7 linked regions of the Homo sapiens genome follow. The protein of the gene in region 6 purifies or fractionates together with the protein of the main gene of each other region. This does not show direct contact. Each region holds a gene or a part of one and is shown on either strand. Other genes may lie near its edges.

Region 1 (4,156 bases), on a different chromosome or scaffold from region 6:
TTATATTGTCTAGTAACAAATTTGAGCTTTTTTTTTCCTTTAATAAAATTTGGTGTCTTGATTTTTGGCAGTTCACTAAATGATAAGTATAGTGAAGGTTGATTTAATTGCAGTAATTCTGGAAAAAATTTACATGAACTCACTATTACTAAATTAAAAAAAACCCAAACCTGTTCTGTAATAGGTTTATTGTGTAAAATTTGGGGAAGAGGAGAGTATAAAGAAAAGTCATGTCTGTTATTCCACCAATAAGAAACTATGATAAGGAATTTGTTTTATGTCTTTTTTTGAAATGAACAAGGCAAAGCAAAACAAAAAGAAATTTGCATCATGCTATAAACGTAATCTTGAATCTTCTCAAGACTGTGAGCATTTCTCCATTTTTTCCTTAATGAAAGTACAAAATCTAATGGTTGAACTGGATTCCATCATATAGATAAGCTGTAATTCCTCTATTATTCGGCAGAGTTGTCTAGTTTATTTAATCCTTGTGTGTAAGTGATTGCATACATCAATTGATTAAAGTACAGCTGGCTGTAAATGGTAATTTTGTGTCCACAAAGTTTATATATTAGCCTTTTGTAGAAATTATGATATTTTTAAATTGTGACAGAGGGCCTGGCTCTTCAAACAAAAATAATACTCATTATACCCCCACTCTCATCCCTGAAAAAAGCCATATAGGTTAGTTTGTAAGAAATATTTTAAGATGTGACTACTCATCAGCAAATTTTTCTGTTGATAAAACTGGATTTGAAATTTTAATTTTGTTTATCTAGAATAGGTACATCTTTTATTTTCATTTACTTAAAACTTCTTGATTTTAATCTTTCAGATTTCTTTTTTTGCTCTTTTAAGAGGACATTTCGCTACTGATTGTGATATTTTGTTTTGCAGAGTAACAGCTATCCACCAATGTCAGATCCATACATGCCTAGTTACTATGCTCCATCCATTGGATTTCCATATTCTCTTGGGGAAGCAGCGTGGTCCACAGCTGGAGACCAGCCTATGCCATATCTGACAACCTATGGACAAATGAGTAATGGAGAACATCACTATATACCAGATGGTGTATTTAGTCAACCTGGGGCATTAGGAAATACCCCTCCATTTCTTGGTCAACATGGATTTAACTTTTTTCCTGGTAATGCTGATTTCTCTACATGGGGGACAAGTGGATCTCAGGGACAATCAACACAAAGTTCTGCTTATAGTAGCAGTTATGGCTATCCACCTAGTTCTCTTGGGAGAGCTATTACTGATGGACAGGCTGGATTTGGCAATGATACTTTGAGTAAGGTGCCTGGCATTAGCAGTATTGAGCAAGGCATGACTGGACTGAAAATTGGTGGTGACCTGACAGCTGCAGTGACAAAAACTGTAGGTACAGCTTTGAGCAGCAGTGGTATGACTAGCATTGCAACCAATAGTGTGCCCCCAGTTAGCAGTGCAGCACCTAAACCAACCTCCTGGGCTGCCATTGCCAGAAAGCCTGCCAAACCTCAACCGAAACTTAAACCCAAGGGCAATGTGGGAATTGGGGGTTCTGCTGTACCACCACCTCCTATAAAACACAACATGAATATTGGAACTTGGGATGAAAAAGGGTCAGTGGTAAAGGCTCCACCAACCCAACCAGTTCTGCCTCCTCAAACTATAATCCAGCAGCCTCAGCCATTAATTCAACCACCACCATTGGTGCAAAGCCAACTGCCTCAACAGCAGCCTCAACCACCACAACCACAGCAGCAACAAGGACCTCAGCCACAGGCCCAGCCTCACCAAGTGCAGCCTCAACAGCAGCAGCTGCAGAATCGCTGGGTAGCTCCTCGTAACAGGGGAGCAGGCTTCAACCAGAACAATGGAGCGGGCAGTGAAAACTTTGGTTTAGGTGTTGTACCTGTCAGTGCTTCACCTTCTAGTGTAGAAGTGCATCCCGTGCTGGAAAAGCTAAAGGCCATAAACAACTATAATCCCAAAGACTTTGATTGGAATCTGAAGAATGGACGTGTGTTTATAATTAAAAGCTACTCTGAGGATGACATACATCGTTCCATTAAATACTCTATCTGGTGTAGTACTGAGCATGGTAATAAGCGTTTGGATGCAGCTTACCGTTCCCTGAATGGGAAAGGCCCACTCTATTTACTCTTCAGTGTGAATGGCAGTGGACATTTTTGTGGAGTGGCTGAAATGAAGTCTGTTGTGGACTATAATGCGTATGCTGGTGTCTGGTCTCAGGATAAGTGGAAGGGCAAATTTGAAGTTAAATGGATCTTTGTCAAAGATGTTCCCAATAACCAATTACGGCATATTCGCTTAGAAAATAATGACAACAAACCGGTTACCAATTCAAGGGACACTCAAGAGGTACCCCTAGAAAAAGCTAAGCAAGTGCTTAAAATAATTGCTACTTTCAAGCATACCACCTCAATCTTTGATGACTTTGCACATTATGAAAAGCGTCAAGAAGAGGAGGAAGCCATGCGTAGGGTAAGAATATAGTAATTTTTTGTTTGGGGTCTTTGTATTGCTGGTGGGGTGCATGGATGGGTATATTCTGAGTTTAAGAACTTTCTGTGAAGGAAACCAACTACTTAAGAAACAACTCTACAAACACCCTTGAAGGTATCTATGTGTGTCCTATATGAACCATTTCTTCTTTCCTTTCCCAGGGTAACTCACGCTGAGTTAGCCTCTTGCTCATTCTTCATACTCCCTAGATGATAAAGGCCATTGGGCCTCAGTGTTTATCATCAAAGCTGAATGAATTTTGGCATTTGTAACTAAACAGACTTCATGAACTAACCAGGGGCTCTAATCATTAATATTATTAATCATACTAACATAGGAGAAAATATATTTAGAGTTTGAAACAACTTTTTTTTTGAGATGACATCTTGCTGTGTTGCCCAGGCTGGAGTGCAGTGGCTATTCACAGGTGCAGTTATGGCGTATAGCCTCAAGTTCCTGGCCCCAAGCAATCCTCCTGCCTTAGACTCCCAAGTAGCTGGGACTACAGACCTGTACCACTGAACCTGGCACTTAAAACAAGTTTTTATTTATTTATATTTTATATATTATTTAATTTTTTTTCAGACAGGGTCTCTCTTGTCCCGGCAGGAGTGTACTGGCGTGAACATGGCTCACTGCAGCCTTGATCTGCTGGGCTCAAGTGATCCTCCTACCTCAGCTTCCCGAGTAGCTGGGACTACGGTCACACACCACCACGCCTGGCTAATTTTTGTATTTATTGTAGATAGAGGGTTTCACCATGTTGCCCGGGCTGGTCTCCTGAGCTCAAAGGATCTGCCCCTACCCCTCTGCCTCCCAAAATGTTGGGATTACAGTCCTGAGTCACTGCACCCAGCTGAAACAACTTTTAAATAAATGTTTTACTCTAATTTTGTGTTTATAAGAAATTACATATATATATATATATATATATATTTTTTTTTTTTTTTTTTTTTTTCTTTTGTGAGATGGAGTCGCTCTCTGTCGCCCAGGCTGGAGTGCAATGGAGTGGTCTTGGCTCACTGCAACGTCCGCCTCCCGGATTCAAGTGATTCTCTTGCCTCAGCCTCCCGAGTAGCTGGGATTACAGGCACACGCCACCATGCCTGCCAAATTTTTGTATTTTTAATAGAGACGAGTTTCACCATGTTGGCCAGGCTGGTCTTGAACTGCTGACCTCGTGATCCGTGCGCCTCGGCCTCCCAAAGTGCTGGGATTACAGGCATGAGCCACTGTGCCTGGCAAAATATGTTTTTAAAACATAAAACTCTTGAAGTATTTTTATAATTTTTATACTTAAAGCACTTGTACAAAATAGAGGCTTTGCAGAATTTGATTCCTAATTCTGTTATATACCCTCTGTAAGATTGAGGGAGACATTCCTGAAATAAAACATGCTGTTTATCCTTGTATTATATTGGCCAGAATATTTTTATTTTTATTTTTTAAAAATATCCTATTGAGTGGCCCATATGGGGATTAGCCCCCCAAATATTGGCTAGACTTTGATCACAGGGCCACAAGAGTCAGTTCAACTAGGGAAAGTTTTCTCTTCCAAACTGTAACGTAAAATTGGGGTCCTATTTTTAGGTGGAAAGAGAAAATGGATGGGCTTTTCTATAGGGGATACATTTAAATT
Region 2 (4,156 bases), on a different chromosome or scaffold from region 6:
CGGCCTGGGGTAGGGGGAGCGCCGTGGTCAGCGGGCTGGCGCTGACGGCCTGTCTCCTGCAGGGGAGGCCCGGCCCCGAAGTCCCCCGTGGGAGGGGCCTACCGGGCTGTTTGGCATCATTGGGTTTGATGCAGCGGACGTAGGCGGGCTCCTTAGACTGCAGGATCTCCACCAGCTGCAGGAGGCTCATCTTGAACTGGGTGGCGACCTGGCGAGCCAAGAGGCATGGGAGGTTGGCCGGAGCTGGGCTAAAGCTGCTGACCCCAGCAGCGAGTACCCCACTCCCCTGGCTGGTGACGCGCGCAGCAGCCTCTGATTCTGCCTGGTCCTTACTCCTCCCACCACAGCTTCCTCGCAGCAGAGGAGGGGGCCAGACTCCACCCCTTACCCCTCTGGCTGGGCGAGAGACCTCAGTCTACGAGCCTCACTCCAGCCTAAAACTCCTGCTCAGGTCTCCCAGCAACCTCAGTGCTACACCTCCCTTTAGTGGCCCTTCTTTTTCTTTCTAGAACTTCAGGGCTGCGTTCCTAAACAGCATGTCCCATGCTACGCATTCAGCTAGTATCTGGGTATGCTGCTCTGCGGGACCTGGAAGGATCTCAGGCCTGGCGGAGGAGCACGCTCCTTGGCAAAGACTCACAATCCCGGTGTTCCGAGAGTAGCAGGTGTATGCCTGTGGGTTCTGAGAGCCCCACAAAGGGACAATTCATCCAGTCTGAGGGTTAGGGGGCACCAGGTGACGTCTTCTGGAAATGACGCTCTGCTGAGCTTTAAAGGATAAGGAGGAGGGGCGGGTGAAGTGGCTACAGGGAAGGACTGAGGGGGAGCTGCTAAGTACTCCGGCAAGATCCAGTGGCTGGACAAGGGAGACAAGGAGAGAAAAGAACGAGGGGGCCGGAGCCGGGCGCGGTGGCTCACGCCTGTCATCCCAGCACTTTGGGAGGCCGAGGCGGGCGGATCACCTGAGGTCAGGAGTTTAAGACTAGCCTGGCCAACATGGTGAAACCCCATCTCTACAAAAATAAAAAAATTAGCCGGGCACGATGGCGGGTACCTGTAATCCCAGCTACTCGTGAGTGTGAAGTGGGAGAATGGCGTGAGCCCAGGAGGCAGAGGTTGCAGTGAGCCGAGATCGCGCCACTGCACTCCAGCCTGGGTGACAGAGCGAGACTCCGTCTCAAAAACAAAAACAAAAACAAAAAAGGGGATGACACCCAGGTTTCTGGCCTGGGGGACTGGGTCAAAGAAGGAGAAAGCCTGGAGGGGCAGACCAAGGGCCCGTTTGTTATAGACCAGTGGGATCTAGGGTGCCCTGGGGCCACCTAGGGGAAGAGGATGAGATACACGAGTCTGTGGCTTGCTGGAGAGGCCTGGGCGGGAGGGTGTGTAGGCATCCTCAGCAGGGAGACGCTAGGGCCGGGAGGATGTGGTGCTTCGGGAGAGGGTGGGGTGGACGGCAGCAGCGGGCAGGGGCACAGTGAGCCACACCCTGGGCAGCATGTCGCCTGCATGCCCTCCCTGCCAGGCAGTCTGGCTTCCACCTCCCTATGGACTCACTGACCTCACTCTTCTGGGGCTCCCCTGACCCTCTTTTTGCCAAGCCCAACAGCCGTACCTCCGCCTTCAGCTCGCTGGAGCCCTCCCTGCATCTGGCACCCTGGCCATGCCTGCCTTTCCCCCGGTCCTTCTCCTTGATGCCATCGCTTTCCTGCTCACCTCATGGCCTTTTTAGACTCTCTGTGTCTGGACTGGGCCCTCACTATAGGTTCATCTGACATTCCCAAGTCATCTCCAATGCTTCCTCCTCCAGGGAGCCTCCCCAACCCCTCACCCCTTCCGCCCCGTCAGGCCGTTTGCTGTTCCCTCTTCTAAGTTTGCAAAGCACCCTGTGCACATGTTGCTGCAGGCACACCCACTCATTGTGGTACCTCAGTGCCTGGCAGTGTCTGCTATAAATGTCTGCTGAGTGGGTAGACACATGACAGCAACCGCACAGAGGCAGCTGTCAACATATGGGCACCCACAGAGACAGACGTACACAAGGATTCCCCTACAGACACAGCCCACACTGAAGACACACGACTCCACTATAGACACAGCACACACACACAAGTAGGCAAACAGGGACAGGCGTGGTGGCTCACACCGGTAATCCTAACACTTTGGGAGGCCGAGGCAGGTGGATCACCCGAGGTCAGGAGTTTGAGACCAGCCAGGCCAACATGGTGAAACCCCATCTCTACTTAAAATACAAAAAATTAGCCGGGCATGGTGGCAGGCGCCTGTAATCCCAGCTACTCAGGAGACTGAGGCAGGAGAATCGCTTGAACCAGGGAGGTGGAGGTTGCAGTGAGCCCAGATTGCGCCACTGCACTCCAGCCTGGGCAACAGAGCGAGACCCTGTCTCAAAAAAAAAAAAAAAAAAAAAAAGTAGGCAAAGAGGCACCTAAGGCAGCCCCCTACAGACACCTGCAGATGTGCACGGGCTCACACGCGTTCACACGCACGCTGCCAGCTCCCAGGCTCACACAGGCCCTCATGCACACTCAGGCGCATGCACCCCTGCGCCCGGTCCCGCCACCTCCTCACCGTCTCTGGCCGCTTCTTGTCACTGAGCTCGCTCCGGTCAAAGCACTGGCTCATAATGGGATTCTTTGAGCTACACATGGTCTGTGTGGGCAGAGCCGGGGTCAGGGTGGGGCACAGGGACAGGCAGGACAGGCTCCTGGACACAGGTGCAGAGCTGTGGGCTATCCCCACCCCCACCCCGGCCTCCCCACGTCCTCCTCACCTCCTTAAGGTTCCGGAAGAGAAGGTCATTGTTTTTGTCCAGAAACCCTGGGAGGGGAGAACCGACGTGAGGTGAGACAGAGCCTCCCCGCAGGCCCCTGTGGGGACACAGCCCCAGGATCCTCACCGGTCACGCTGTAGGTCACCTCCCCCGCATAGTGCAGAAGGCGGAATTCCCCTCGGCCCAGAGATTTCCTGGTCCGCTGGTCAGCCAGCTTGTGCCTGGGGGTGACAGGGAGGAAGCTGCAGATGGCTGCCGGCCTGAGCCAAGCCCTCTGCCTGCTGAAAGGGCCTCAGGAGCAGGAACCAGCTGCCCAGGTGCACCCCAGGCCGGGCACAGTGGCTCACGGCTGTAATCCCAGCAGTTGGGGAGGCCGAGGTGGGTAGATCACAAAGTCAGTACTTCGAGACCAGCTTGGTCAATATGGTGAAACCCCATCTCTACCAAAAATACAAAAATTAGCCAGGCGTGGTGGTGGGCGCCTGTAGTCCCAGCTACTCAGGAGGCTGACAAAGGAGAATCGCTTGAACCTGGGAGGCAGAGGTTGCAGTGAGCCGAGATGGTGCCACTACACTCCAAAAAAAAAAGAGCAGGTGCACCCCCAGGGCTGGGTCACTGAGGCAGGCCAGGCAGGGCCAGTGGCCTCCCTGATCAGAGCGGACCATGGAGGCTCAGAGAGGTAGATGGCCTTGGCCAGGGCCACACAGTGCCAGGACCGGGACCTGGGCCTCCTGACGGCCAGGGTACGCTGCAGGGAGGGAAACTCTCGTTGCTTCGGCCGCTGCGGGCTCTGCTCAGAAGGGGTGGTGAGCTGCGCACTACTTTTCAGAATGGAATCTGCTGCCCCAAGAGAGCACTTAAGTCTTAGGCGTGTTTATACCCTTTCACCCATTTGCTTTTAAGAACTATTTCAAGCAGCTAACCAGAGACACGGACAAAGATTGAAGGCACGGAGATGTTTGTGGCAGCCTTGTGATTCCAGCAGAAACCTGGGAGGCTGGCCAGGGGCCCCGAAGGGCTGGGTGAGAGAGGGGAGTATCTGTGGGTCAGAACCGCTCCAGGAAGTGTTCTGAGGAAAATGTTGTTTGATGATACGGGAAAATGTGCAGGATATTTACCCTGAGCCTTATACACAAGTTCTCGACTACGAAAAAAAATGCATAGAAAAAGGCAGGAGGGAAATGCCTCACACAGTTAACAGCCATGGCCTTTGGGCGACGGGATCACAGGTGGCTTTTGCGCACATTCCAACTTTGCTGTAATAAGCAATATTATTTTTATAATCAGGAACAAGTTTTTAGTATTTATTATTTAATGAATCAGGCAGCCCCTAAACCCGAATAGATTCAGAGAGACTCCTAGAAA
Region 3 (4,156 bases), on a different chromosome or scaffold from region 6:
AAAAAAAAAAAAAAAAAAAAAAGCAGGTCTCCCAGGAGGTTGTAGAAAGAGTTCTAGTTCATCTGATTTAATTCATTTATCCCTAAAACCATAGGTCTTGGATAACAAATACAGTTATTTAAGGAAAACCTTGAAAAGCCTTTCAATTAAATTAGCATTCCTTTAAAGGGACATAATTCTACTCAACAGCATTAATGGGAGAAAAAAATAAAGATGTAGGGTGATTTTGTGCCTTTCTTCTTGAATAACCTTGTAGATACGTGACTCAGACAGCTCATTAAATTCCTCCCATGCTGTGTACTCTTTCAAACCATCCTTTTCTCTGCATTAATCTCCTTTCTCTGATGTGAAGGTAGTGTTTGATTTTTCAGAGTAATTTGTATAGACAACCTCTTAACTTTTGGGGTTGTCTCTGGAAGAAATCACTATACTAATTTAACTTGGTCTCATTTTCAGTTTGCTGAATGGTGCTTAGAGTATGGAGAACATGGATGCAGAACACCAGACACCCCTTTCTCTCTCTTTGAAGGTATTTTGTACACTTTATTTATTTGCCCTATAATATCAGCATCTACTTCTCTGCTTGGTAATTAATGTATTTAAGTTTTAGCAAAAAATTTTATAATTATTCTTAAACTACTTTTTTATTTCCTAATATGCTAAATCGATATTAAAAATCAATTAGCACATGTAATACCACAGTCCCAATACTGGTAGTCATCAGGTGACTCCCTTTTATGGAGCCAGGCACATGTTGGGCATTTTGCAGACGCCCTCATAAATCATTCAGCAAAAACATACAGGCACTACTACCTTCATGTCATAGCCGAGGAGACTGAGGCTCAGGAGCTTATGTTTGGTAAATGGCAGGGCTGTGACTTGAACTTGTCTGGCTCCATTCTTTCTCCAGTCTTCCACCGGGATATAAGGCTGAACACCTCACTAGTGATCTCTTCTAATGTTGAACTGCAGTGTATGTAAACGTAGATAGATTCACACTTCATTTAAATCATTGCCGTTAATATTGTAATGTTGTTAATGTTAAAAAATGGAGCCATCCTTCGTTTTTGCAGAGTTGTAACTGCTCTCGGGGGGTGTCAGTGAGGTGAGGAAAAAGCCATAGGATGCCGAAGGAGGAGGGCCAAGAGGACACCCCCACCCTCCAGTGCGGCCTTGATCCAGACCTTAGGGACGAGGCCATCACTGGTGGGCACCCTTTGTTGATGTTTGTGTGTTTGAATAGACTGAAATGCTGTGACTTTTTTTGTCAATAAAGATATGGGGGAAAAAGAACCATCCTATGAAATGGAGTCATTTGGTATAATAACTTTTGCCTCTTTCTCTTTCTTCAGGAATGGCTGGAACAATATATTTCCTGGCTGACCTGCTAGTCCCCACAAAAGCCAGGTTCCCTGCATTTGAACTCTGAAAGGATAGCATGCCACCTGCAACTCACTGCATGACCCTTTCTGTATATTCAAACCCAAGCTAAGTGCTTCCGTTGCTTTCCAAGGAAACAAAGAGTCAAACTGTGGACTTGATTTTGTTAGCTTTTTTCAGAATTTATCTTTCATTCAGTTCCCTTCCATTATCATTTACTTTTACTTAGAAGTATCCAAGGAAGTCTTTTAACTTTAATTTCCATTTCTTCCTAAAGGGAGAGTGAGTGATATGTACAGTGTTTTGAGATTGTATACATATATTCCAGAACTTGGAGGAAATCTTATTTAAGTTTATGAATATAACCATCTGTTACTGTTCTAAAAATGTTTAAAAGAAACTCAATACAGATAAAGATAAATATGTGACTATTATTGGGTATTACACTTCACTTCTCTTTAATATTTTTCCTCCAACTGGAGGGCAGACAATTTTCTGACTTGCTTTTCTCTAGGTGGTTCATTTTGAAAGGGGACAGAAATATAACTAAATGCTTCCAGGAGAAAAATTCCAAGAGTTACAATCTGGACTTGGTACCTAAATATCATTTTTTAAATTCTTGATGCCTATTTGGACTAGAGGTAAACATACTTTCAGATTGGCCTGTTTTTGTCGGTAAGGCATACAGCCTTCAGAAGCCAACATTTTTAATCAAAAACTTATAAAACATGATGATCATTGTGAAAATTCTGAGTTGAAGGTTAGTTTAAGATAAGCTAACAATAACAGTCTGTGTTTTCTCTAAAATAATCTGAGTTTTTTGGAACTCTTTATTTAAATATGTGTGTTTTTCAGTATTCAAATAAGATCAGGAAGCCAATTTTCTATGTATGAATATGCTTTAACCTAGGATTTCAGTCCACTCTGACTGACTTTCTAAACTTTAACTTGGGTTTTTACAGTGACTATGCATTAGTGCTGACTCTTTGGTATAAGCCATAAAATATTTTCCTTCCTATCAATTTATCTGAACTTTGGTCTTTTCACTAAATTGTACAGTATTCTACTTCTGTTTAAAAAGGGGAGATGAGAAAGGGAATACTATCTAACCAATAACTTGAACAAAAACACTAAACTAAGCATTTAATAGAAATGCTTTTTATTGAGGAGGTATTATCCAGAGTTCATGCTTAGAACAAATGCATCTTTGCGTATCCTAGACTTAACAATTCATCAGTTTCTGAGACCACAGAATCAGGTTTTCCGTAGTAGATAAAGACTCTCTGGTGCTTCAAATTCTGTTCAAGTGTTTTGACTCATCAGCTTCTACTCTTTCTATTACTGCCTTTGCCTGGCTTGTTTTGTCTCTTTGCAACTGATTTTGCAAAAAAAAATTGTAGCTTTAAAATAACAGGGTCTAAGTATTTTAAATGTGCCTATTTCACAGCTCTCTTGGTCACAAAAACATGCTATTTTTATTGGAACTTCAAACCAAATCCCCACTGAGTGTGTACTGGTTCCTGCAGGTAGCAGTCTCCTATTATCTCCTGTTTAGCACCAAAAGAGCTAATATTATTGGAAACTGACCTTTTAAAGGCCACTGGCAGTAGGATTTAAAAAGCAGCCCACTGCTCAGTTTCCAGGATCAGCTTCCTCCTTCTGTCACTTGTGTAAGTTGGCACTACCTTGTGCCTCTCAGATTGCTGAAGTGCTGCTGGTAAGCATGTGCATGCTCTGCCTTTCTTGTGAAAGTTTTCAATCAGCGATATCAGCACTTACAGTAAGAAGTAAAAGTAGTGCACAGCAAAGCTAATTTGCCTTTGCCTGGGGTGTTCAGCTTGAAAGAATAAAGCTCATTTGGTTTAGTTAAATGTCTTACTCTACTGTGCCTATGCTTTTAGCTGCGTTACTAAGCAAGGGAAAAATAACAGTTTCTCTGAGCCAGAGAAGACTTGATCACAGTTCTCCAAGCATCGTGATAGCAATGCTTAACCCCAGGAAGATTTCAAGGCAGGGAGAAGAACATTTCAAATAAGATTCTTGTTAACCCATTTATGCCTAGTGTTCCATTATTGGAATGCTAAGCTTGTGGGAGTCATTTACATCCTACTGCTCAAAGTCATTGCCAAGGTCTGATTTTTCACACAAAAAATTGCAACCCCCAGCATAAATGGGTTAGCTACTGTCATCAGTTAGCAAATTCATCCACACAAACACAATTAGAGTTTGGTTTTTTTTTAAGCTTTTCAAAACTTACTAAACTGGCACAATTTTATATGTATGCTATTTGTTGTATTTATGCTTAAGAGCAAAAAAGTTTTGATGGGATTTTAAATTCAGGCAAAGCCTACAACGCTGAGACAATCCCCTAACAACATGGTAGTAACTAAAGAAACTTTTATACTAGGCTTCTTAGTTTTAAAAGGAAGTGGCATCATTGTTTCAGTTCTAGTTTGTATTTTTCTCTCAGATATTTTTCTTCTTTAAAAATCTTTCCCAGAAGTTGGTTCCTAGAAAACTCAATACCATCATCTCTTATCTCTATACAGGGACTAGGTAATAAAACCTTCAAAGGTTGTCAAAGGTCATCAAGCAGTGTTCATTTATCCTGTCACATGTTTCTGTTTCTATAGTAATTTAGAAATTGCAAATAGTTAACTTTTCATCATGTAAAAAGTTAACATTATCCTATTTCCATAGATACCATGGACGGCGGTGTGGCCTGAGTTGTCAGTCTTTAATCCTGAGTCATGTGGCTCTCTTTTCATCTTTGATG
Region 4 (4,156 bases), on a different chromosome or scaffold from region 6:
TTATGGTGTTAATTTTCTAATAATAATAATGTGCTTTCCTTCATAGGAATGTCATAAGGATTTATTGAAAGAATGAATATGCATATATGTGTATCAAAAATATTTGCTGAGTTTCTTTCTTTCTTCTTTTTTTTTTCTTAAACTATAGCTGGTATTTGAATGTTGCTAGAAGCCTTTCTTCTAGTATGCCATATAAGCAGCCCTAGCTGAGTTCTATTTTTGTTAAGCTTAAAATTCTTTTTAAAGACTTTGTCAAAACTATCAGGTTTCTCACAGTCTTCTCTAGTTTCAATATGAGAATTTTATTTTATTTTATTTTTGGGACAGAGTCACTTTTGTTGTTCAGGCTGGAGTACAGTGGCATGATCTCGGCTCACTGCAACCTCTGCCTCCGGATTCAAGCAATTCTTGTGCCTCAGCCTCCCAAGTAGCTGGAATGACAGGTGTGCCCCACCATGCCCAGCTAATTTTTTGTATTTTTAGTAAAGACAGGGTTTCACCATGTCGGGCCAGGCTGGTCTCAAACTCCTAACCTCAGGTGACCCGCCTGCCTTGGCCTCCCAAAGTGCTGGAATTACAGGTGTGAGCCACCGTGCCTGGCCAGAATTTTACATATTATATATATGATAGAAAAAAACCCCTCAGAATAACAGAAATGTACAATTTTAGGAAACATGAAATTCTTTACCTTATTAGTATAAGAATCCTATATATTGAATTAAGAGATAAAGACATTTTTGCTTCAGCTAGAGGTATCTAATCCCCAAAGTTACCCAAGTGTATATCAGTATATTAAATATAACTTATCTATGCTGTTGACAAATAGCATAAACATATGGCTTGACTTTTCTCATTTTAATATTTGTTCATTTGATGATTTGTAAACTATATAATTATCACCCTGATTTTTTTCCCCCTATATTCTCATCCTTGCTTGCCTGTTAGGTGGGTGTGCCTGCTGCTTTGGACATGATGCTGACTGGTAGAAGCATTCGTGCAGACAGGGCAAAGAAAATGGGACTGGTTGACCAACTGGTGGAACCCCTGGGTAAGTGTTAGCACATCTCAGAGTCAGACCTTATAAAGTTACTTATTTTCTTAAAGAGTTAACCTCTTAGGCCAGGCACGGTGGCTCACACCTGTAATCCCAGCACTTTGGGAGGCTGAGGCGGGAAGATCACTTGAGGTCAGGAGTTTGAGACCAGCCTTGCCAACATGGCGAAACCCTGTCTCCACTAAAAATGATTAGCCGGGTGTGGTGGTGCAAACCTGTAGTTCCAGCTACTTGGGAGGCTGAGGCAGGAGGATCGCTTGAACCTGGCGGGGCTGAGGTTGCAGTGAGCCAAGATCATGCCATTGTGCTCCAGCCTGGGCAACAGAGCCAGACTCCCATCTCAAAAGAAAAAACAGTTAACCTCTTGAATATCACAGGAAGCACAGAGAGAAGCTCAAACTCTTAAGAAATGAGTCATTATTCTAAGGAAGGAAGTTTTATAAAATAGCTAATACTAAATCATTTTCAACATCACCCTGATTTTTATTTTGCTTTATAATTAGAACATTAGGAGTACAGAATTCAGTCAAGTCATTATTTTTGGTTCTTAAATTACCTGTATCATTATCCATGCATAACCTTCCTTCAGTTTCTTGTGTCTGTTTTAGTAATATAATAAATGAAACAACCAACCTGAGAATATTAACAATAATTGATATCTACTGATGGGCTACTTCCTCCCATTCAGTTTCTTTGCCTCCCTTTATCCAAAGAAGCCACTATTCTGACTTGTGTGTTCATTACCCTCTTATATTTATTGAAAATCAGCATTATTGAGATATTACTTACATAATAGTAAATGTATTAATTTTGTGTGTGTGTGTGTGTGTGTGTGTGCGCGCGCACACATGTTGGGGTCTCACTCTGTTGCTCAGACTGGAATATGGTGGTGTGAATATAGCTTGTTGCAACCTCAACTTTTTGGGCTCAAATGATCTTCCCACTTGTGCCCCCCGAGTAGCTGAGACCACAGGCATACGCTGCTACACCAGCTAATTTTTTATTTTTTGTAGAAACGAGATCTCACTCTGTTTTCCAGGCTAGTCTCAAACTCCGGGCTCAAGTAATCCTCCTCCCTCAGCCACCCAAAGTGCCGAGATTTACAGGTGTGAGCCACTGTGTCTGGTGAAATTGACCAACTTTTAATGTATAATTTGAGTTTTGAAAATGTATATAGCTGTGTAAACACTGCCACAATCCAAAAATAGCCGTGCATGGTGGCTCACACCTGTAATCATAGCATTTTGGGAGGCTGAGGTGGGAGAATTGCTTGAGGCCTGGAATTCAAGACCAGCCTGGACAACAGAGCAAGATCCTATCTCTTAAAAAAGAATTTTTTTTTTTCAATTAGCTGGGTATCATAGTGTATACCTGTAGTCCCAGCTAGTCAGGAGGCTGAGACAGGAATATTGTTTGAGCCCAGAAGTTCAAGGCTGTAGTGAGCTATGATCACACCACTGCACTCCAGCCTGAGCAACAGAGTGAGATGCCATCTTTTAAACAAAAATTTTTAAACATTTCTGGTATGTAGTTTGTTTTAATCTTCGTTCACTTAGCATAATGCTTTTGAGATGCATCCATACTGTTGCATATATCAGCAGTTTGTCCTTATTGCTGAGTGTTACTCCATTGTAGAAATGTACCATAGTTTGTTTATCCGTTCACCAAATGATGAGCATTTGAGTTGTTTCTAATTTAGGGCTATTCTGAATAAAGCTGCTATGAACATTCATCTTTAAGTCTTTATGTGGGCGTGACTGGGCGTGGTGGCTCAAGCCTCTAATCCCAGCACTTTGGGAGGCTGAGGCAGGCTGATCACCTGAGGTCAGGAATTCAACACCAGCCTGACCAACATGGCGAAACCCCATCTCTACTAAAAATACAAAAATTAGCTGGGTGTAGTGGTGTGCACCTGTGGTCCCAGCTACTTGGGAGGCTAAGGTAGGAGAATCACTTGAACCCAGGAGGTGGAGGTTGCCGTGAGCCAAGATTGTGCCACTGCACTCCAGCCTGGGTGACAGAGCGAGACTCTGTCTCAAAAAAAAAAAAAGTCTTTATGTGGACAAATGTTTCATTTCTGTTGGGTAAGTACTGAAGAGTGGATTGGCTAGTCCATATAACAGATATATATTAGCTTTTGAAAAAAAAAGTTTGGCCTGAGCAACATAGCAAGACTCTGTCTCAACAAAATAAAAAGTTTTAACTAGTTGGGTGTGGTGGCACATGCCTGTAGTCCTGGCTACTAGGGAGGCTGAGGCAGGAGGATTGCTTGAACCCAGGAGTTTGAAGTCACATGGAGCTATGATCAGGCCACTGCACTCCAGCCTGGGTGAGAGAGGGAGACCTTATCTCTGGGAAGAAAAAAAAAAAATTTAGAGATGAGACTTTGAGTCTTGCTCTGTCACCCAGGCTGGCCTCAGACTCCTGGGCTCAAGCAGTCTTCCTGCCTCAGCCTCCCAAGAAGCCGGGATTACGAGGCATATGCCACTAGTATTTGCTAGGTATGTGTTTGCTTTTCTGTCAGACTGTTTTCCCAAAGTGGTTATACTCTTTTGCATTCCCACCAGCAGTGTATGAGAGTTCTAGGTACCAACCACTTTGCATGGTCAATCTTTTTAATTTTAGACATTCTAACAGGAATGTAGTAACAGTTCTTTTTTCTTTTTTTTTTTTTGAGACAAAGTCTCGCTCTGTTGCCCAGGCTGGAGTGCAGTGGAACAATTTTGGCTCACTGCAACCTCTGCCTGCCAGGTTCAAGCGATTCTCCTGCCTCAGCGTCCCAAGTAGCTGGGACTACAGGCGCCCACCACCATGTCCAACTAATTTTTGTATTTTTAGTAGAGATCGGGTTTTACCATGTTGTCAGGGCTGGTCTCAAACTCCTGACCTCAAGTTATCCCCCTGCCTTGGCCTCCCAAAGTGCTGAGATTACAGGCGTGTGCCACCACACCCAGCTGGAATTAGTCATATTTCATTGTGGTTTTTATATTACCCTAATTACCAAAGATATTGAATATCTGTATATCTTATTTGATAAAGAAGCATCTGTTCAAATTTTTTGCCCATTTTCTTGGACTGAGTGTTTTTCCTATTATCGAGTTT
Region 5 (4,377 bases), on a different chromosome or scaffold from region 6:
TATGGCTAATTTTTTATTTTTTGTAGAGACAGGGTCTTACTATGTATCTCAGGCTGGTCTCAAACTCCTGGCCTCAAGTGATCCTTCTGCCTCAGCCTCCCAAAGTATTGGGATTACAGATGTGAACCACCACACCCGGCCGGTCATTACTTTTACATGTCTAAATAGTCCTTGGGTCTGGGCATGGTGGCTCATGCCTGTAATTGCAGCACTTTGGGAGGCCGAGGCAGAGGATTGGGAGGTTCGGGAGGATCACTTGAGGCCAGCAGTTCAAGGCTGCAGTGAGCTATGATTGTGCCATTGCATTCCAGCCTGGGTGACATAGGAAGACCTTGTTTCTACAAAAAGGTTTTTTTTTAAATTATCTGGGCATGGTGGCACATGCCTGTAGTCTGTATGCCTAGCTACTCGGGAGGCTGAGGTGGGAGGATTGCTTGGGCCCAGGAGTTGGAGGCTGCAGTGAGCTATGATCCACTGTACTTCATTTCAGTATAAACGACAGAGCAAGACCCTGTCTCCAGAAAAAAAACAAAAATAGCTCTTGGTCCATTATTCTAATATTTCTTCTGTTTGAATCTACAGTCCATTGCTTTGGGGGTGTTTTATGGTTATGTTTCTCAAATTATTATTTTTTGCCTCTGAGCTTTTTTCCCCTGCAACTGTTCGCTATTCTAACACATCAAGCAGTGTGAATAGGAGAATGGCCAGATCCCTGTCCTTAACAACCCACATGATCTCAGGACAATGGGCTGGATAAGCCTAGGCCAGAGATTCCTAGGCACCTAGAAATGAGACTTAAATTTATTTCACCTTCCACAAAACACCTCTTCAGGTTGGATCTTCCCACTTCATCCCTCAGGGAAGAGTATTAGTAGGAGACACTTCCGATAGTGTTATTCCCTAGCCCTGGGCGTGGAGAGAGGGCTGGGGAGATCATTCGGCCCTACCAGTTTTTCTCAGTTTCTCACAAGCACAAGGCTCCTGCACTGCCCTTGTTTACTGGTAAGGACATCTGAACAAGCGAGAGGGCAGGTGCCGATGCACACAGCAGTGAGGGAGGAGCAAGAGCAAAACTCTGTTCTCTCGCAGCCATTATGCACTGCCTTCTGGTCCAGGCCAGAACTACCACCTCCCACACAGCCCAAGTTAAAACAGTCACCCGGCCCCATCCTCACCCATTCTCCCCAGCTGTCACCAGCCGGGTTTCTTTCTTTCTTTCCTTTTCTTTTCTTTTCTTTTCTTTTCCTTTTCTTTTCCTTCCTTCCTTCCTTCCTCTCTCTCCCTCCCTCCTTCCTTCCTTCTCTCTTTCTCTCTTTCTCTTTCTCTTTCTCTTTCTCTCTTTCTTTCTTTTTCCTGCATTTTCCATCTATGTTCCTCTAGGATTGATCTTGGAGAAAGGAGGCAGAGATAAGAGTCAAACCAATTCAACATAATGGTCCCCAAATAAATTTCTGAGGTCATATTTTTCCATTTAAGCAAACAGCTCTGACATACTAGACTCTCAATCTCAGTTTTGAATTCCTGGGAGAAAGACTCTCGCAGAGCTTGGGTTGCCTAGGATAGTATTTAAAAGGGTTTGTATGACCCAAGCATCTGGGTCTTTTGGTTGTGGGGGTAAGCCATGCTACCAGCTCCCTTCAGCACCTCCCTATTTTCTTTTTCTTCTTTAAAATAAGACAATTTCTGTAACTACTGAACTGGTAGTGTGGTATCATGAAGGTGAGGCAAATGCCTGATACCTAAAAGATGCAGCCAGTCCCACAGTTTATTTCAGGAGGGCTGGTATTTGCAATGTGTGCAAGATAACATTTTAGTCATTATGAAAAGTATGACTTTTCATACTTTTCTGACAATAAGAATTTTTAAAATTTAAAACTGTAAACAAAATAATGTACTTCATTAAAATGCAAAGTAAATCTTTAATTAATAAAAGTTTTTAAGGCCAGGTGCAGTGGTTTGTGCTTGTAATCCCACCACTTTGGGAGGCAAGGCAGGAGGATTGCTTGAGGCCAGGAGTTTGATAGCAGCCTGGGCAGTACATTGAGATCCCGCCTCTACAAAATCAAAAAATTAGCCAGGCAAGGTGGTGCGTGCCTGTCGCCCCAGCTACTTGGCAGGCTGAGCTCAGGAGGTCAAGCCTGCCTTGGGCCATGATCATCCCATGCACTCCAGCCTGACATTCAGAGCAAGACCTTGTCTCAAAGAAAGAAAAACATTTTTATGGTGTTTTCTTTTTTAGTCTTTTCAATAATGAAAATTTTCATTTTACAGGTAAAATGAAAGGCCTGGCATTTATTCAAGATCCTGATGGCTACTGGATTGAAATTTTGAATCCTAACAAAATGGCAACCTTAATGTAGTGCTGTGAGAATTCTCCTTTGAGATTTCAGAAGAAAGGAAACAATGTGATTCAAGATATTTACATACCAGAAGCATCTAGGACTGATGGATCACTGTCCCGATTCAAATTATTCTTCAGTCCATTTCCCCTTCCTATTTCAGCTGTTCCTTTTCACCTAACTGTTCAGTCATTCTGGTTTTCAAGCAGTGCTTTATCTCATGTCCTTGAATATAGTTGTGTAACTTTATTTTTTAGGTAATAATTAGAACAGTTCCCTTCAGAGGCTGCATTTGCCTTCTTCTGCCACCTAAATATTACTTCCCTTCAAATCTGCCTTTGAATCATCATTTTTAAAAAAAAATTAACATGTTTTTGTTGTAGTTATCTTCTGGGGTTTCAATTCCTCAGAAACAACTTTTTTCACAACGGAAAGGAAAGAACACTAGTGTTCTTTCAGTAAAGTACAAAGTGTTTATTTTACAAAAGAGTAGGTACTCTTGAGAGCAATTCAAATCATGCTGACAAGGATACTGATAGAAAAAGTGATTTCTTCTTATTATAAAGTACATTTAAAGTTCAAGGACTAACCTTATTTATTTGGGAAAGGGGAGGAGGAAGGAAATGATATGGTACCCAGACACTGGGCTAGGCTGCAACTTTATCTCATTTAATACTCCCAGCTGTCATGTGAGAAAGAAAGCAGGCTAGGCATGTGAAATCACTTTCATGGATTATTAATGGATTTAAGAGGGCATCAATCAGCTCAACTCAAGATTTCATAATCATTTTTAGTATTTAGATTGTGCCTCAAAGTTGTAGTACCTCACAATACCTCCACTGGTTTCCTGTTGTAAAAACCTTCAGTGAGTTTGACCATTGTGCTCTTGGCTCTTGGGCTGGAGTACCGTGGTGAGGGAGTAAACACTAGAAGTCTTTAGTACAAAACTGCTCTAGGGACACCTGGTGATTCCTACACAAGTGATGTTTATATTTCTCATAAAGAGTCTTCCCTATCCCAAGGTCTTCATGATGCCAGTAGCCATATATGATAAATTATGTTCAGTGATAACTTAGTTATCAGAAATCAGCTCAGTGGTCTTCCCCGCCATGATTCACATTTGATGAGTTTTTAAAAATCAAAGTGATTTTGAAAATCTCTAATGGCTCAGAAAATAAAAACATCCAGTTTGTGGATGACTATATTTAGATTTCTCTAGACTCTAGTGGAAGACCTTTGGAAAGGCCATGCCAACCGTGCTTGTACTGCTAGAAGCACTTTATGTTTCCTTTTTGGGTGAAATGGATTTATGTGAGTGCTTTAAACAAATAGCAATACTTATAGACTGAAATAAAATGAAACTTCAAATAAGACTATGTTTAATTTGTAAACCTTTGTCCATCATGTTCTTTCTTTAAAAAAAAAAAAAAACAACTCCCCTTAGTGAGTACTGAAAGGATTTGAAAAGGCTTGTAGGCTCATTCTGAAGAGAGAACAATTGTGATTCTGTACAGCCCGTAAAGCAGGTAGTGTCTATGGATAAGGGAGTGTGGGAAAGGTGGGAAGAAGAAAGTGAATACGGAATAAAGGATTGTGGTAGATAAAGTGCAAACAGAAGAATATCAAAAGGTAAGGAACTTATGAAGACCAATTTCACATGTTGAGTGCTAGAACTGACAAACGGGAGGGCTAATACATTCACAAATTCAGTAATTTAAGCTTTATTTCCAAGGAAAGAAGCCTTCTCCACTTGCTGAGTAAAACTTGCCAAAAGATAGCCCTTGCTCATTCTTTAAATTCATTCCTATATGCATTTTTTTTAAATGTACAGTTGGCCCTTGAACAACATAGGTTTGAACTCCACTGGTTTATTTATACAGGGATTTTTTTCAAGCAAATGTGGGTTGAAAATACAGTACAAAGGGGGCTGACTTTTCATATGCCAACTGTGGGACTTAAGTATGCACAGATTTTGGTATCCATGGGCAGTCCTGGAACCAATCCTCCACATACACCGAGGGACAACTGTATATGGTAA
Region 6 (4,754 bases):
AGTGTTTGGCTACTGTGAACTATGCTCTTCTGAGCATTTTCAACCATGCATTTGGAGCACATAAGCATGCGTTTCTGTAGGGCACATACGTAGGAGTGGAACTGCAGGCAATAGCGTACGAATATTGTAAACTATGATAGCGGTAAACTTTTCCAGAGTGACTGTAATGCTTAAACTCCACCAGAAGCAATTCACTAGAGGTCCATTTGCTCCATGGCATCATCAATATTTAGTAGTGCCAGACTTTTTATTGTTGCCATCCTGTTATGTTTGCAAAGGTGTCTCACTGTGAGTTGCATTTGCATTTCCCTGATAATTAATTAATGAGGCTGGCACTTTTGTGTGTTTATTAGACATTTCATTTTTCTCTTTGTTTTAGTACCTATTTAAGACTTTGCCCAGTTTTTTTATTGTAAGTATTTTTCCTACTGGTTTGAAAAAATTTGTATATAATCTACATGTGAATTATTTATTAATTATATGCATTACAAGTATCTTCTCCTATGGCTTTTTATTTTCACTGTTACTGGTATGTTTTGTTGTACAGTAACTCATTTTAATGTAGTATAATTTGTCAATGTTTATTTTCTAGTGCATTTTGTGGCTTGTTTAAGAAATCGTTCTCTACCTCCAGGTCATGAGGATATTCTCCATTTATCTTCTTAAAACTTTATTGATTTACTTTTCACATTTTGGACAATAATCTGCTCTAGATTTGTTTTTGTATACAGTGTGATGCAGGAGACCAATTTCATCTTTTAAATATAAATAATCAATGGGCTCTGCAACATTAATTGAACAAAATTGTCCTTTTCCCATATGTCTGAGATATCTTCTTTTGTTTTATATAAAGAGTCTTATATACATGCAGGATCTGTAACCAAGCTCTCCTTTATTTTCCTCTAGTCTATTTGTCTTGCACCTATATCATATTACTTTAATTATAATTATTTTATGTTTGATATCAGAAAGAATTTTTTTAATGGTGGTGATGGTTTCAAGGGTGTATACTAATCCCCCAAATTGAGATGTATACATTAAATATGTACAGGTTTTCATATGTCAATCGTACATCAATAAAGAGGTTGAAAGAAAGGAAAAAAGAAAGAAAGAGAGGGAAAGAGAGAGAGAGAACAATTCTTCCAACCTTGTTCTTTTCAAAGCCAGTCTATCTGAAAGTTATTTTTCTTCTGCTTACTCTTTTCTCATAAGATGTATCCCTTTGTGATCCCAGTCCAAAATGGGGGGAAATTTGCTATAGTAACCAACTTTTACATGTACAGAAAATGGTCTAAATTCCATCAATCAATCTCTATCACAAGGTACCACCATTGAAAGACAGAAGGTCAAGAATGTAGCTCTGAATATTCAGTGCAAGACCCTGAAGATATTATAGATAGGTTATGCTAGGAAAAATCAAGATACCAAAAGGCTTAGAGCAACTTCAGAAAAGTTGTTTGGAAATAATAATTCAAGAAGAGTTCTACTTTGGCTAATAACTTACCCAAACAACTTGCAATAAAACAGACACTGAGAAGTAAGATGAAAACTACAGCAATAACCGAAGGTATCAGCTGGGGATGCATGCCTCCTTCCACTAGGACCAAAAGAAAAATAGAGATTAACCTCCTCTCAGCTACAAGCTAGGAAAGCTAATTCTACCAAGGAGCAATCTAAAAGTGACAGCAAACCAAATATTTCAGATCTAGAGAAGAGCATAAATATTTTCTCCAAATAAATCAATTTTAGAGCTTATTGATGAATAAATAAATAAGAAAGAAAAATGTAAAATTTCTTGGTAATTTTGAAATGAAAAGAATTTTATAAGTAAGATACAAAACCCAAGAGCCATTAGAATAGATAATTTGAGTACATAAAAATTAAAACTTCTATATAACACAAGCAATGTTAGAGTCAAGGAACGTATGAAAGGAAAGTCTTCTCATAATATTAATATCCGCACTGGATAAAGTATTTCAAAATCAACTAGAAAACTGAGCAAAACTCTGAGCAGGAAATTTGCTGAAATTTTAATTTGCTGAAGTTATAAATAGCCACTAATCAAACAAAAATATGCCCAATCAGGGAACTGTAAACGAAAAGATTGTGGTATAACTTTTCACACATCAGATTTTTTAAGTAAATTAAGTACATGCAGTGTTGGCAAGGCTGAGGGGAAATAAGCACTCTTAGTGAGAAAATAAATGCTGCTGCCTGGACTGGAAAATTAGGAATGCCTTTTAGAAGGATCAATTTAGTGGCATTTATCCATTTTTAAATGCATTTCATTTGCCACAATAATTTCAATTACAGGTGTCTATTCTATAGAAATAATTGAGCTTGTTTATGTTAAAAGATATTCATTGCAGTACTTCTCAAAATAGAAAACACATACTGTAATCTAATATTTACATGTATATTATCAATAGTGGAAATTCTAAATTATGGTCCCTTCACACAATGATATTCTGTATAGTAATTAAATAAGCATGTAATCAGTATATATTGATGCAAAAAATCTCTAAGAAATATTGTTACCTAAAAAGGTAATTCAATAGGATCACACTGTGATTACAGTTTGCCATGGTAGGGTGATGAGATAAAGTAAAACTTTAATTTTAATTTAAACATTTCCACACTTGTTCTATATATCTATCAAAAATATTATTTAATATTATCACAATACAAATCCACTGGTGTCACTTAAGTCAAACATAAAATGGGACAGTTAGAGCCTCTGATACAGCATAAGCCTAAATGCTTTTTCTACATCTTCCTTTTCTCTTTTTTCTTTAAAAGAATCTTCTCATATTACTCTCTTTCTTTTCATCTTATTTCTCTTTTATATATTTTATCTCCCCTCTTGGTCCAATATACATTTTATAAAGAAGTTTCTGTTATCCAACTTATTTGACTCTATGTCCTTCCTCTTCACCAACGTCATTTTTATTTCCTTCCACCTCCTTCTCCCCGTCATCATCAACAATCTTTAAAACTACCATCAATTCATATGTTTTAAATTAGTATAATTCCATCTGCTTCTTTGAAATGGAAAGGAGAGAAAGTACTCACGTTTACTTTGAGGTTTTTCTAGCCCCATTGTCTAATTAGTCTCTTGTTCAATGGTCAGGACGGCAAGAATTTGTTCTATTTTTTTTCCCCCAGAGTATATTTCTGTGGATAGGGGAATATATTCAGAAATACTTGAGATCGAACACCAATGTTACATATTGTAGTGAGATTAGAAAGGTACCAGTATAAGAAAGTTAGCTCAAAAGAAGTCTTTTTCAAAGACAGGGGTTTCCTTTGATACATTCCGGGAGATGAGGCGAAAAAAAAAAAAAAAGGAAATTGAGAAAGCAATACCAAACAACAGTTAGTAGAAACCCACAAGTATGTTGAGATCACTAGATCAGTGTGAAATGTGGAATTTCTCAATTTGTTTTTTTTTTCATTTAGACAAAAAATTTAGCAACGCCCTAAAAGAAATAATTGTTATGCCCAATAAAAATTTAGTAAATGTCCCCTCTTTTTAAATTCTTTTTGTGAATATTATATTTTCAAAGGCAGTTATATTCTTGGGGTGAGTTCTATACTAAAAAGTTCTCTGGACTGAATAAAAAGTTGAGTCTAAGAGAGCAAAAGACAATGTGAACAATGAACAAAAACTTTTAAAGTATACCTTGTGTGTACATGGCATGTGAAGACACAGCAACCTTTGTTTTCGAGTTGAGGAAGAGATGATAGAGCAGTTAATTAAATCCCAAGAACTTTCTAGGTGAGCAAAAAGAGTTGTGTTAAGGCAAAGACAAAGAAAATGTAAGATTCTGTGATAAAGACACCATCAGGGTCCCTGACTTCATTTATAGCACTGTTAGGGAGTGAATGTCTGTATCTCCTCAAAATTCATTGGTGGAAGCACTACCCTCCAACGTAATGGCATTTGGAGGTCAAAAGTTTGGGAGGTAATTAGGTTTAATATGAGGTCATGAGAATGGGGTCCTCATGATGGAATTATAAGAAGAGACCCGGCTAACGAGCTGTTTACTTCCTGCGGGTGCTCAGGCTGTGGCCATCTTCCTTGCTGTTGCTCTTCTCATTGGAGAAGATGGCCCTGGAGACGGTGCTGAAGGACCTGTGGCATCTGTGGGCCTGTTTGCTGTGTTCACTGGTCAAGGTACTATAGACCAGTTTGAATATGATGGTTGTGACTATTGAGATGCATATCTACAGATGAAGGGTAACTGAGAGATGCTATATGGCTGCACCAGCTCCTCCTTTGATGGAATCATTGCGATGATGAGTCCAGAGGACAGCTGGGTCTCCAACTGGCAGCGAGTCAATAACTTTAAGCCAGGTGTATATGCGGTGTCAACCACTGGTCGCTTGCCCTAAGGAATCGTGCGGGAGCTGAAAAGTTGAGGAGTGGCCTACAAATCCAAAGACACAGCTATAAAGACCAGACGCAGGGCTGCCAGCGTCTTTGCTCTCCACCTCCTGCCTCTGCTTATTTTTTGTTCTGGAACTAAATGGGCAGAGCTTCAAATGCTTCCTACCCTCCAATTCAGACTCAGCCAACTGTTGAGAGAACAGCACATCATTTTATCATTTTACCTTATTTGGACTTCAGGTGGGGGTGGGAGGGATTTGGGTTGGTGGATTAACAGATGGAATTGAGGAGAGAGTAGGATGCTGACTTTCCTACCTGTAGCCCAAGGCTGCGCCTTGCTCATGAAGAGGTCTAGGTCAAATGT
Region 7 (4,156 bases), on a different chromosome or scaffold from region 6:
AATGTATTCATCCACTGTGTATCCGCAAAGTTTTTTTTTTAATTATACTTTAAGTTCTAGGGTACACATGTACAACGTGCAGGTTTGTTACATAGGTATACATGTGCCATGTTGGTGTGCTGCACCCGTTAACTCATCATTTACATTAGGTATATCTCCTAATGCTATCCCTCCCCCCTCCCCCCACCCCATGACAGGCCCCGGTGTGTGATGTTCCCCACCCTGTGTCCAAGTGTTCTCATTGTTCAGTTCCCATCTATGAGTGAGAACATGCGGTGTTTGGTTTTCTGTCCTTGCGATAGTTTGCTCAGAATGATGGTTTCTAGCTTCATCCATGTCCCTACAAAGGACATGAACTCATCACTGTGTATCCACAAATTTTTTTTTTTTTTTTTTTTTTTTTTTGAGACAGAGTCTCACTTTGTCGCCCAGGCTGGAGTGCAGTGGTGCAATCTCATCTCACTGCAAGCTCCACCTCCCGGGTTCATACCATTCTCCTGCCTCAGCCTCCCGAGCAGCTGGGACTACAGGCGCCCACCACCACACCCAGCTAATTTTTCTATTTTTAGTAGAGACAGGGTTTTACCGTGTTAGCCAGGTCTCGATCTCCTGACCTCGTGATCTGTCCCCCTCGGCCTCCCAAAGTGCTGGGATTACAGGCCTGAGCCACCATGCCTGGCCAAAAATTTTTAAAAGAAAAAAGAGACTCTTTTTATCCTCACTTTAAACTACCTTTGTATTGCTTTCAAAGTCTGCATGATTATCTTTAAATCCAATCAGTATGACTGAGAAAGCAGTATTTTGTTAGTTTCTTAGTGGTTTTTTGATCAGAGAAATAGGAACTAGTGGAGTAAAGATAAAATAAGAAAGATATGAAATAATTATATATATATTTTTTTCTGAGATGGAGTCTTGCTCTATCTCCCAGGCTGGAGTGCAATGGCGCAATCTCAGCTCACTGCAACCTCCACCTCCTGGGTTCAAGCGATTCTCCTGCCTCAGCCTCCCGAGTAGCTGGGATTACAGGTGTCTGCCACCACGCCCAGCTAATTTTTGTATTTTTTTTTTTTTTTTTAGTAGAGACGGGGTTTCATCATGTTGGCCAGGCTGGTTTCTAACTCCTGACCTCAGGTGATCCACCTGCCTCAGTCTCCCAAAGTGCTGGGATTACAGGCATGAGCCAACACGCCCGAAAAATGCTCATGGGTTTAAGAGAATGTAAAGAATATACATTTTTTACATTTTTAGGAATTAAAATAGATTTATCTCTTTCAACTTTTGTATATGTTTGACATTTTTTATAATATTGGAAAAATATATGAATCTTGTATTTTACTTTTTTAGTTTGTTCATTCAAGTATTTCAATAAAATAGATGATTACTCCATATTCTCAAAGAGGTTTTAAATCTTTTTTAGTGGGCCGGGTGCGGTGGCTCACGCCTGTAAATCCCAGCACTTTGGGAGGCGGAGACGGGCAGATAACAAGGTGAAGAGATCAAGACCATCCTGCCCAATATAGTGAAATCCTGTCTCTTCTAAAAATACAAAAATTAGCTGGGCATGGTGGTGCACCCCTGTAATCCCAGCTACTCAGGAGACTGAGGCAGGAGAATTGCTTGAACCCAGGAGGCAGAGGTTGCAGTGAGCCGAGATCACACCACTGCACTCCAGCCTGGCAACAGAGCGAGACTCCGTCTCCCAAAGAAAAAAAAAAATCTTTTTTAGTGAATGGAAAGTTGGAAAAATTTCACGCAATCTTTTCTTTTAAAGAAGTATATCACAAAATGAAAGGACCTAATAGAAATGAGCAAAAGGTAGTTGACTGATCTATCTTTGTAGTATACTTGCTATATAAATGAGGCTGTTTGTGTGGCAAGTAGATTGAACAGCAAGTCTACTTTTTGTCAGGTGCGTAGCTTTCATTTACAGTGGAGTCTTTAAGGTTAAACACTATTGGAATTATTTTTTATTTCCCTCTACTTATGTCTGTTTTCTTTTACAGCATCCACCCGTTTTGTCAAGTGTGAAAAGTGTCATCATTTTTTTGTTGTGCTATCTGAAGCAGACTCAAAGAAAAGCATAATTAAAGAACCTGAATCAGCAGCAGAAGCTGTAAAATTGGCATTCCAACAGAAACCACCACCTCCCCCTAAGAAGGTATAAGTCTTAAGCTCAGTCTTACAAGTATTTTATCTTGAAAACATTCCATTGCTTCCCTCTCCCAAGTTTACACTGAATCCTAATACTAGTATATAAACAAGTATTATAGGTTCATAATATGGACCATATGTGGCTAAATTGTTATTGCCTTTTGGAATTTAAATATGGGGTCTGTTGCTTTTTCCCATGTTATGATTACTGTATTCAGTGGCAGTGAAATATAGCTAGATAATTATTAAAATGTTAACTTGTTAATACCAAGTTAATCTGAAATAATATCTACAATAGAGCAAGCAACTTCTGATTTATTTTTGTTCATATGGACCCTTAAATAACACCAGCCTAGGCTGGTCCACTTGACTAGCCTTAAAAAAAAAAGCCTGCAATTATCTCCCTTAAATTGGTCTATTTTATGGTAAAACAGCCTTCAGTCTAATAATGTAAGTAAGTAGTTTTTTCATAGCCAGTGTGCCGGGCTGCTCCGTATAGCACTGTGGCTTTGGTAGTGTGGACTCTTTAGAAGTCTCAGGCAGAGTATGATTTGGTCCTGTGAGATGTAACAGAATGTACCACCAGCTCCATTGGGTATTTGGTGTGTGCTTTTTGAGAACTGGGAACCCTTGTACCCTGGCTATGTGCCTTCTGTTCTGGCTGTGTCTCAGATGTTTGCACACTTAGATTATTTCTCACTGCCTCAGTGTATCTTTCTTCTACTGTGTTTAGATATCAGTGCATTTGTCTCTACTTCCAAATGTGCTGTGACAGATTTAATGTCATTGGTATAATTTGTAAGGAATAAAGATGTTTAAAACTATAATAAAATGTATATGGTCAACAACTAAAGAATTTGTCATTAAAAATGGAAAATATATTGGGCTTTATATTCTATACGAATTTGTGTAGACTTTAGACATGTGAGTTAAAATTCCAGGCAGTTTGGCCGGGTGCGGTGGTTTGGTTCACTCCTGTAATCCCAGCACTTTGGGAGGCCGAGGCGGGCGGATCATGAGGTCAGGAGATCGAGACCATCCTGGCTAACATGGTGAAACCCCGTCTCTACTAAAAAAATACAAAAAATTAGCCCGGCGTGGTGGCGGGTGCCTTTAGTCCTGGCTACTCGGGAGGCTGAGGCAGGAGAATGGCGTGAACCCGGGAGGCGGAGCTTGCAGTGAGCCAAGATCACGCCACTGCACTCCAGCCTGGGTGAAAGAGCGAGACTCCGTCTCAAAAAAAAAAAAAAAAAAAAAAAAAATCCAGGCAGTTTAACTAATTTCAGGAGTTTTTGAATTATTTATTTTTTAATCAGGGTTTCACTCTGTTGCCCAGGCTGGAGTGCAGTGGCACACTCATGGTTCACTGCAGCCTTAACCTCCCTGGGCTCAAGTGATCCTCCCACTTCAGCCTCCACAGTAGCTGGGACTGCAGGTGTCTACCACTATGCCCAGCTAATTTCTGTAGAGACAGGGTTTTGCCATGTTGTCCAGGCTGGTCTGCACCTCCTGGGCTCAAGTGATCCATCCGCCTCAGCCTCCCAAAGTGCAGGGATTACAGCCGTGAGCCACCAAGCCCGGCAGGAGTTGGTTAATATTAATTCACCAACCATTTCATTTCTATTCACTAAAAACTTAAAAAATTTACCCCAGGTTCCAAGCTGTTGGCAATAACCAACTGTAGAATAGAGCTTTAGCTACTATTAAGAATAAAGTTTTTAGGGCTGAGCTTGGTGGCTCATGCCTGTAATCCCAGCACTTTGGGAAGCCAAGGCAGGAAGATTGCTTGAGCCCCAGGAGTTCAAGACCAGCCTTGGCGACACAGTGAGACCCTGTATCAAAAAAAGAAAAAAATATATTTTTAGAAAATAAAAAAAAATAAGAATACAGTTTTTAGAGTCTCAGATAAATGAGTAGCTTTAAAGTTAATGTCTGAGAAAAAATTAAATTTACTAAAACACATAGATACTGATAGTATAATGGCTTTTGATTATGTAATGCCTGT

Evidence for each region.
Region 1: the proteins of CLEC4D (region 6) and YTHDF3 purify together in Homo sapiens (affinity purification with mass spectrometry, with the first as the bait; one large-scale study listed by BioGRID). This does not show direct contact.
Region 2: the proteins of CLEC4D (region 6) and MYO1C purify together in Homo sapiens (affinity purification with mass spectrometry, with the first as the bait; one large-scale study listed by BioGRID). This does not show direct contact.
Region 3: the proteins of CLEC4D (region 6) and LANCL1 purify together in Homo sapiens (affinity purification with mass spectrometry, with the first as the bait; one large-scale study listed by BioGRID). This does not show direct contact.
Region 4: the proteins of CLEC4D (region 6) and HADHA purify together in Homo sapiens (affinity purification with mass spectrometry, with the first as the bait; one large-scale study listed by BioGRID). This does not show direct contact.
Region 5: the proteins of CLEC4D (region 6) and GLO1 purify together in Homo sapiens (affinity purification with mass spectrometry, with the first as the bait; one large-scale study listed by BioGRID). This does not show direct contact.
Region 7: the proteins of CLEC4D (region 6) and CLPX purify together in Homo sapiens (affinity purification with mass spectrometry, with the first as the bait; one large-scale study listed by BioGRID). This does not show direct contact.

Annotation. Positions count from the first base shown.
Region 1 is NC_000008.11:63,185,250-63,189,405, forward strand, and holds part of YTHDF3 (YTH domain-containing family protein 3), read left to right. Parts: intron 1-897; coding exon 898-2,496; intron 2,497-4,156. UniProt on the Homo sapiens protein: Specifically recognizes and binds N6-methyladenosine (m6A)-containing RNAs, and regulates their stability. M6A is a modification present at internal sites of mRNAs and some non-coding RNAs and plays a role in mRNA stability and processing.
Region 2 is NC_000017.11:1,472,021-1,476,176, forward strand, and holds part of MYO1C (unconventional myosin-Ic), read right to left. Parts: intron 3,013-4,156; coding exon 2,918-3,012; intron 2,839-2,917; coding exon 2,792-2,838; intron 2,671-2,791; coding exon 2,590-2,670; intron 209-2,589; coding exon 103-208; intron 5-102; coding exon 1-4.
Region 3 is NC_000002.12:210,431,760-210,435,915, reverse strand, and holds part of LANCL1 (glutathione S-transferase LANCL1), read left to right. Parts: intron 1-456; coding exon 457-529; intron 530-1,352; coding exon 1,353-1,429; 3' UTR 1,430-4,156. UniProt on the Homo sapiens protein: Functions as a glutathione transferase. Catalyzes conjugation of the glutathione (GSH) to artificial substrates 1-chloro-2,4-dinitrobenzene (CDNB) and p-nitrophenyl acetate.
Region 4 is NC_000002.12:26,227,084-26,231,239, reverse strand, and holds part of HADHA (trifunctional enzyme subunit alpha, mitochondrial precursor), read left to right. Parts: intron 1-945; coding exon 946-1,048; intron 1,049-4,156. UniProt on the Homo sapiens protein: Mitochondrial trifunctional enzyme catalyzes the last three of the four reactions of the mitochondrial beta-oxidation pathway.
Region 5 is NC_000006.12:38,675,278-38,679,654, reverse strand, and holds the end of GLO1 (lactoylglutathione lyase), read left to right. Parts: intron 1-2,271; coding exon 2,272-2,360; 3' UTR 2,361-3,730; downstream 3,731-4,377. UniProt on the Homo sapiens protein: Catalyzes the conversion of hemimercaptal, formed from methylglyoxal and glutathione, to S-lactoylglutathione. Involved in the regulation of TNF-induced transcriptional activity of NF-kappa-B. Required for normal osteoclastogenesis.
Region 6 is NC_000012.12:8,512,079-8,516,832, reverse strand, and holds the start of CLEC4D (C-type lectin domain family 4 member D), read right to left. Parts: upstream 3,331-4,754; 5' UTR 3,101-3,330; coding exon 3,073-3,100; intron 1,598-3,072; coding exon 1,505-1,597; intron 1-1,504.
Region 7 is NC_000015.10:65,164,633-65,168,788, reverse strand, and holds part of CLPX (ATP-dependent clpX-like chaperone, mitochondrial precursor), read left to right. Parts: intron 1-2,003; coding exon 2,004-2,158; intron 2,159-4,156. UniProt on the Homo sapiens protein: ATP-dependent chaperone that functions as an unfoldase.